Linked DNA regions of Homo sapiens: region 1 is linked to region 2. The links come from fine-mapping of genetic effects on gene expression. A gene starts in region 2. The other region holds a variant in brackets. All regions are shown on one strand. Distances are from middle to middle.

Evidence for each region.
Region 1: its variant is fine-mapped to the expression of HHIPL1 in spleen (GTEx, PIP above 0.99).

Annotation. Positions count from the first base shown.
Region 1 is chr14:99,668,199-99,672,583 of GRCh38, forward strand. It overlaps HHIPL1 (HHIP like 1), which reads left to right. Exons shown (of 9, transcript NM_001127258.3): 7 at 24-105; 8 at 4,119-4,201. Among named protein-coding and RNA genes, the nearest start is that of CYP46A1, 14 kb to the right of the region's middle. RefSeq lists enhancers at 879-1,420, 2,362-2,961, 2,962-3,563, 3,564-4,163. The variant A/C (reference allele first, on the strand shown) is at 2,040.
Region 2 is chr14:99,643,177-99,647,561 of GRCh38, forward strand. It overlaps HHIPL1 (HHIP like 1), which reads left to right and starts at 1,953. Exons shown (of 9, transcript NM_001127258.3): 1 at 1,953-2,286. The coding sequence starts at 2,032.

The sequences.
Region 1 (4,385 bases), 25 kb after region 2:
TAGTCACTTTGTTCTGTCCAAAGGGGAGCTGTACTTCATGTCGACAGGGGAGCCGAGTGCCACAGCTCCACGCGGAGTTGTCTACAAAATAATTGACGCATCCAGGTGAGTCCCAGCCTCCAGGACAGGGAGCTCCTGCTGTCTGTCAGGCCTCTTAGCTCCACGGGCTTGTCCCCTCCGCCTCGCCCTCAGGTGGGTGGTATTAATCCCCATTTTCAGACAAGAACCCTGAGGCCCAGAGAGGGACGTGATTTGCCTCAGTTCCTCCGGCAAGGGGCAGACCCAGGATTCAGACCCGGGTCTGCACGCCTCAAAGCACAGGTCTATTAGGATAGGAGGGAGCTGGAGAGGTGACTGGGGCCGCGGGCCGAGGCTTCACTTGGCTTTCTTGCCTGGCCCGCCCTCCCTGCGTCTTCCTCCTGTCTAGCAGGCCCCTCATTCCTCATTTCCTGGGCTGCCCCTGCACCCCCACACCCCAGCCCCCAATTTGCCTCTGTGATGCCTCCCAGATGACACCCTGATCCCTGTGTGTCCCCGCCCCGTGCCTGCCCTTCCTCCTGTGGTCCATCTTCCACTGGGGAAAACACATTGGGGCTCCCTTCGCCGGCTCCATCTCCCCGGCTTCCCTTCTAGCTGTAAGGCCAGAAGCGCCATGCCCGGCTATGTCCCAGCTCCTTCCGTGTGCAGCTCATTGACGTCTCAGCCGTTCATTTTACAGTGGTGGAAATGAGCACAAAGACACGAAGTCATGGGCCTGGGGCCCAGGGCCAGGGTGGGGCCCAGGCCACTGGCTCCAGAGCCCTGCCCTAACCCCTTGGCTGTGTGCCTTCACCTCACCCTCTTCAAGCACCTTCCCCAACCCACGTTGCCCTCCAGGCCTCTGTCCAGCCCTTCCTCAGCTCTCATCACTCAGACTTGGTAATCCCTGGGCTACACGACTGACTCTCTCCCAGCTGCTCTGGGAGTCTCAGGGCCAAGCCTGTATCTCTTCACTCTGCAGAGGCCGCCCAGGTGCTGGGAATGGCACGGAGCAGAGACTCAGGAACACTTGATGAATAAATGAGTGATCAGCTTTCTAAGCTGCTTCTCAGCCCTTAGATTTTCGCTTCTCTGCTGGCTTCCACAGCAGTCTGAACGTCTCTTCAACACTGGGTACGGACACAGCTTGTACTTGTCTCTAACGCAAGGCCTGAGGTTGCACTCCGAGAATCCACACCTTTGGCAGACTCTAGGAGTCCCCACTGTGTTTAGTTACCCTAAACTTTGAGACACACCAGGTTTGGGAAAATCCTGAAACAAGCTGGCATGTTTCACGTTCTTGGGAGGCAGATGGGAGGAGTTCAAGTCCAGCCCGGGCAACACAGGGAGAACTTGTCTCTAAAAAAATTAATTAATTTTACAAAAAGAAAAATTCTAAAACACTTATTGTGCTTAAAATCTTTTACACTGGGCTCAGTGGCTCACACCTGTAATCCCAGCACTTTGGGAGGCTGAAGTCGGAGAGTTTCATGAGCCCAGAAATTCAAGACCAGCTTGGTCAACATAGCAAGACCCCATCTCAACAAAAAATTAAAAAATTAGTCTGGTGTGCTGGCGCACATCTATAGTCCCAGCTACTTGGGATGCTAAGGTGAGAGGATCACTCGAACTCAGGAGGTCGAGGCTGCAGTGAGCTATGATCGCACCACTGCCCTCCAGCCTGGATAACAGAGCAAGACCCTATCTCAAAACAAAAGACATTTTAGAATAGTTTCAGATTTACAGATAAGTTGTAAAAACTACAGTGTTTCCTGTATGCCCCTTACCCTGTGTCCCTTATTATGAACACCTCACATTACCATAGTGTACATGTCAAAATTAGTCAACTAGTATCAGTCCATCACTATTAATTAAACTCTACAACTCCAGTCTTTTACTTTTTTTTTTTTTTTGAGACGGAGTCTTGCTCTGTCTCCCAGGCTGGAGCGCAGTAGCATGATCTCAACTCATTGCAACCTCTGCCTCCCGGGTTCAAGTGATTCTCCTGCCTCAGCCTCCCG[A/C]GTAGCTGGGACTACAGGTGCCTGCCACCATGCCTGGCTAATTTTTGTATTTTTAGTAGAGATGGGGTTTTGCCATGTTGGCTAGGCTGGTCTTAAACTCCTGACCTCAAGTGATCGGCCCACCTCGGCCTCCCAAAGTGCTGGGATTACGGGTGTGAGCCCCCACGCCCAGACTCCACACTCTTTTTCAAAGGATGTTTCTAGTTGTTCCCCAATGCCCTTTTCCTGTTCCAGGATCCTGTGTTGCCTTTAGTGGTTGCGTCTGCTTAGCTTTCCCCTGTTTGTGTCAGCTTCTCACTTTCCTTGTTTACCAGACTTTTTTTTTTCTTGTTTAAGAGCACACATAAATTATTGACATGACTTTTTATCAAATAAAACATAATCACTTCCTGCTTCCATCCCTTCCTTCTCATTTCCCTGAGGTCCCATCCATTGTTATCTATGCAGCGCCAGGATTTATGTGGTTGTATTTGGATCACACGCAGACTTGGTTCTTTTTCCTTCATTTATGCCCATTTTGTCTAAACGTTGCAAACATCGCCCTCCAAAAAACCATTTCTAATGGCTGCTTGATTTTCTGCTGAGTCACTATAACCCATTCCTTGGAATTTTAGGTTATTTCCAATTTTCAAAAAAGAATGCTCCTCTGAGGAAATGCTACATATACCAAGTGAGTGCCTAATTCATGCCAGATGTTGCCTTAGAGCCATCATCTTCGGTTTTTCCAATCCCGTTTCCCTATTGGCTTGTTGTCCCCATGTCATAGAGAGGGACCCCAACGAGACTTAAGGAGTTCTCTCGCTCACGGTCTTGTGTTAGGAGCCAGAAGTGGGCTAGATTCCTCCTCCCGCCCTGACCCTTCTCCCTTCATTCTCCTGTCTTGGAATAACTGTTTCTTTGCACCCACACATATTACACAGAGGTCCCATTATAGTACATTTGGAAAATGAAATAAATGGGGAGTGGAGGAGGTAGGGTCAGGTCATCTGTTACTACCCACACGTAACCACTGTGGCATTTTGGGGTGGATATCCTACCCTTTTGCATAACAAAGACTTTTAATGCAATTTCCTTAAGGAACAAAAGCCCCACTGGGTCTGTCTGAAGTGTGTGGATGTTCTCTGGAGGTCAGAGCAAGAAAAAAACCTCGCTTTTCCTGCAGCTTTGAGAAGCGTATGTGCCTGGTTGTGTTTCTGCAGCCTCTGGGGACAAAGACCCTTGTCCCTCTTTTGTGTCCCTCTTCGGCCAAGCCTGTCTGGAGGCCACTCCGTGTCACGTGGCTGCTTCACCCCTTGGCCTTTCCACTGGAATCCTATTGAAGTCGTGGGCCCACGTGGGTCTGTCCTGGAATGGGGTCATTCCCAAAGAATCACAGATCGACGGCCAAAAACTAATTAAAACGGAATTCCATTCCCTATTGTGCCCTTAAAAATGTCAAAGGAGACCCAATTCCTAGCCCTGGCACCCTTCTCTGACTCTTTTGTCTCCCTGCTCTCTCACACCCCACATGCCAAGGCCCCAAATCCCTCAGCTCTGCCTCCAGGCACAAGGCTTGCTTTCCTTACCACCCCCGCCGCCCCCGTCCTTTAGGTGGTTCCAGGCAGAGGAGCCTCTCAGATCCTGCATCAGAAATCCAGGAACCAGAGGGGCAGAGAGAGACCCTCCTCAAAGGCTGTAGGGCTGGTGGGAGAGGGTGGCGGGCAGGAATCAGGCTGCATTTCAGGAATCAGACGGCAGGCTGTGGGAGGAGAGAGACTGGCATTTGTTCACACCCTGAGGACAGAGTCCATGCTCTGGATTAGAAATGTCCTGGGAAAGAGTAAGCCTCCAGCCCTGGTGCTATTCCAGCAGAGGCTGAGCGTGCAGCCGGTAGGCTGTTATAGGGGATTTATGCCCTGGAGCTCTTAGAATCCTGGGGGCATGGAGTGGGCAGGGAAGCTGCAGGCCACACAGTAGGTGCATGGTGAATGGCCGCCTGTTACTATCGTTGCTGTTCATACCTGCCTCACTGTAGAGAAAAGGCACCCTCAGGGTGGGCTCCCAGGGTGAGACTCATAACCTCCTGTGTGTCGTTGGCAGGCGGGCACCACCTGGCAAATGTCAGATCCAGCCTGCTCAGGTGAAGATCAGAAGCCGTCTCATCCCCTTTGTGCCCAAAGAAAGTAAGTGCCTGCCAGTGGGACACTGAGGGTTGGGGGAGAGATCCCGCAGCCCACAACGGCTGCCTTTCCAGCCAGACTCGGGTCTTACCAGCTGGACCTAGATGCCCCTCTTCAGCCCCTGTGCCTAGCACTGTGCCTGGCACACATTAGACATGGTGGTAAGGTGGATGGGACTTTAACTAAA
Region 2 (4,385 bases):
TTATAGGCGCGTGCCACCACGCCTGGCTAATTTTTGTATTTTTAGTAGAGACGAGATTTCACCATGTTGACCAGGCTGGTTTCGAACTCCTGACCTCGGGTGATCCGCCCGCCTCAGCCTCCCAAAGTTCTGGGATTACAGGCGTGAGCCACTGTGCCCGGCTCCTGACTGTGACTTTTCTTATCTTTTTTTCATGCCTTGTTGTTTTTCTGGAAAGCCAATCAGGATGTACTAGATAACAGAAACCGAGGTAAATAGGTATTAGGGTGAGGATTTATGTTACTCTGGCTGGGGCTGGGCTGTGTTTGACATTTTCTGTGGCTGTAGGAGCCCAAACCTCATGGCTGTGGCCCAGGCTCTGTGTCACTTCCACCTCTGTACACTCATCTGGAGCCCTGTGTTGATGTGTGACTATCACCCAGTTCTGAGTCCCAGCTGGGAAGTAGGCGCCATCGTGCCCTCCGATTCCATCCTGGCTCTGCCTATTCCCAGCTGTCTGTGCAGGAAGCCGTTGCAGGCCGCATTTCCCACCCTAGCAGCCCTCTGCTAGGTTCAGCCAATGAAAGCCACAGGTGGGAGTTGGAGGGGAAGTGGCAGGGAGAAGCCGGGGTATTTCTCCTCCTCTGTCTGTGCAGAATCTCTGACAGTGGCTATCTCCAGCTGTGGCCAGACAGGCCTTGTGAGGGTCCAGCTTTGACAAGGTGACCATAGCTCCTTGGCTCCAGTAACATCTGCTCTTCCTGCATCAAGGACCTGGGGACTGTTCCTACTGTTGCTGATCTCAAGGTTACTTCACTGAGCCCTGTATGGCTTCTTAGCCTCTTTGGCTTCAAGTCCCTGCGTTAAATTCCCCGTGTTTCAAATACTCAGAGATGTTTGGCTGTGCGGAGACCCTGACTCTTACACTGCACCTGTTCAGGCCAGAGCCACAGACCTCTGAGTGCTCCAGCCCTGCCGCATCTCATCCACCCCCAGCTCTGCCAGGAGCATGGGCCCAAAGACAGAAACATGATCCCCCAGGACAGTCCAAAGAGACCTGCAGAGGACGGATGTGTGCGTTGGGGCCATGAAGATGGAGTAGGAGCTCACTGGACAGAGAAGATGGGGAAGGACACTCCAGGGAGAAGCAAACGCTGAGGTCCACTTGAGAAAAATGCCTGGGTGGTTTTGGTGCTGTGAGATTCTAGGGTAGGTGAGACAGTGTGTGTGTGTTTGTCTGTGTGGGTGGTTTTGGTGCCATGAGATTCTGGGGTAGGTAAGACAGCGTGTGTGCGTCTGTATGTGTGTGGGGGGGTGGGGCGGGGTTGGGTCTGAATCTCCAGCGGGGGCAGCGGAACAAAGGGCTGGATGCCCATCCCAGGAGGTAGATTCATCAGTGCTCCCTATGCGAGAGTGGAAGTGGGGAGCCCCAGTGGGTCCTGGGCTGCAGGAGAATCCGCTGCCCCAGGAGCAGAGACTGGGAAGAAGCCCACAGTAAGGGCAAAGGGTGGACTGCGGAGACTGCTCCGTCCTCCCTCCCCACCCCTACGCCAGGTTTCACTTCTCCCTGAGAGTCCTGGGGCAACACCCCCTGTTCTTTCCCTCGCACCCCCATTTTTAAAATGTTACGTGGGAGCTTTCGGGGACGGGCTGCGGGCATCCGTTTCCCTAGCCCAGTGGGAGGTGGAACCGAAGCCCAGGAGTCCAGGCCTCTGGCCCTGCGCCTCCCTGGCTAAAGAGCGCCCTGTGGGGAGGAAGCAGGGCCCCAGGCGGAACCGGGAAAACACACCGGGGCTTTAAACAGACCGGGCCACTCCCATCGAATTTGGAAAGCGGTTAAAAGAGGTCGTGCCGCATTCTGCGCCGCGTCCCTCTTCCTTCAGTCCCGCCGAGTGTCCCCGACCAGAGGTGACCTCCTAGAAGGGGAGGTCCCCAAACTCGAGGCCCTGCGTGTAGGGAAGGGGAGCGCCCGCCCCTTCCCTGCCGCCGCGAGCGCCCCGGGAGGGGACCGGGGCTGCCGTCCCTCCGCCTCTTCCCCCGCGGGGCGTAGCGATGGCCCGGGCCAGGGCCGGGGCGCTGCTGGCGCTTTGGGTGCTCGGGGCCGCCGCGCATCCGCAGTGCCTGGACTTCAGGCCGCCCTTCCGGCCGACGCAGCCGCTGCGCCTCTGCGCGCAGTACTCGGACTTCGGCTGCTGCGATGAGGGGCGCGACGCCGAGCTGACCCGCCGCTTCTGGGCCCTGGCGAGCCGCGTGGACGCCGCCGAGTGGGCCGCGTGCGCCGGCTACGCGAGGGACCTGCTGTGCCAGGTGAGCGGGCGCGCGGCCACCGGGCGGGGCGGGGCGCGGGAGGCCGAGTCCTGGAGCAGAGATCGGAACCCCGCGGGGGCGAGGGCCAAGAGTGGGCGGCGGACTCGGGAACTCTAAGCCCCAACAGGGAGTCATTTGGCACGGGGCGGGGAGACCGCGCATCCCAGGACGACTCTTGGCTTTGCCATTCATTAGTTTTGTGACTTGGGCCTTCTCGGGGCCTCAGTTTCCCCTCCTGAAGCAGGAAGGACGGACGGACGGACAGATGATGTCATCATTTCCTCAGAGGTTGGGGGCTCTTCTGCCCCAGTCCCCTGGAGTCGACCCCTCAGCGTCCCACCCCGAGCAGCTGCACCCTTGTCGGGGTACCAAGGTGGAGAGGCATCTGTCCCGGTCAGTGCTCCTTTGTGTTGTCCCCGGGGCAGTGAAAGCAGGGGGCCCTGGCGTGGGCGTGGTCAACGTGTGGCCCGGGTTTGTTGAGGGGGTTGGGGCCACTGTCCCCCACGAGCGTCTCACCCCCATCCTGATGCCCTTGCCACTTCCGCCACCACCTCTGTGGGTGCTGTGCCCTCTCCTGGGGATGGCGCCCTGGCCTGCAGAAGCTCTCTCAAGACTGAGCGACAGCTCTTTGTTGAAGCCCCTGGGCCCCCCATCTTCCCTCTGAGGGTGGAGCCCCTGCTTCTGTGCACACCTGGTGGTGCCACCGCTATTTGTTTTCCTCTTGTGGGAGTCTGAGGCCCCAGGGCCTGACCACACCCAAGTGGGCAAATGTTGCCTGGCTGAATGCAGAAATGGAGCAGGACGGGCAGCCCCAAGGCATTCCTGCCTCAGCATCTGGGCAGTGAGAGGCCTGGGGTGGAGAGGCCCCAGGGGCCAGGGCCGTGTCCCAGCCTTCGGCCAGCAGGGGCAGGTGGTGTGGGGAAGGGCAAGAAGGCTGACTTGGAGTTGGAGTTTGATCCTGGCTCTGTCACTTCCCCAGCTTCGTGACCTGGGCAGGTCACTGCTGCACCTCACAATATCTTTAAAATGAAGCTGAGTATGGTGGCTTATGCCTGTAATCCCAGCACTTTGGGAGGCCAAGGTGGGCAGATCACTTGAGGTCAGGAGTTCGAGACCAGCCTGGCCAACATGGCGAAACTCCATCTCTACAAAAATACAAAAATTAACTGGGCATGTTGGGGAGCTCCTGTAATCCCAGCTACTCGGGAGGCTGAGGCAGGAGAAGCACTTGACTCTGGGAGGCAGAGGTTGCAGTGAGCCAAGATTGAGCCACTGCACCCCAGCCTGGGCAACAGAGCAAGACTCCGTCTCAAAAATATAATATAATATAATATGATATGATATGATATGATATGATATGATATGATATGATATAATATAATATAATATAATATAATATGATATAATATGATACATAAAATAAATAAAATAAAACCTTAACCACCCCCCTGGGTGGCCATGCAGATTAAATGCCACATACTAGGGGCTCGGTAAGTGTTTGCAGTTGGATTTCTCGAGGGCTTCCTTGGCCCTCACTGGCTGCCCAGCCCTGGGAAGGGTCCAGGTGAGGCTTGGAGCCCGAATCAAGGAAGACTCAGAGGCAGGCAGGGACTTGCCCAGTGGTCGCACAGCCCAGCGGTGGTTGAGGTGGGGACATGGACCACACTCGCTGAAGCGAGCTCATATCTTAGGTGGGAAGCAGTAGACTCTGGGAGGATGAGGAGGGGGCCCTGGGGAGCTCCAGAATGCAACAGAGGGTGGGCTGGCCACCTTTAGGTGGGCTCTGCTGGACTCCCATGCTGTACACCTCAAGGGCACGGGAATGGTCTGGCCAAGCGTCTGCCTCCCTCACCAGCCTGGGGGCTCCTCAGGACCAGGTCCTTTGGTCTCCCTACCCCCATCACATAGCAGAGTTCCTGCATCCATGCCACATTTGTCTATTGAGCACTTGCTATGTGCCAGGCTCAGCACGGCAGTGAGGTGGGCAGGTGGATGGAGGAAGGGAAGGGTCAGTCCTGATGCTGTCCCCTGGCAGGTTTCTTGGGAAACTTCCCAGGACAGCCTGGCTTTAAGCAACCAGCAGTTAGCAGGAGTGACCA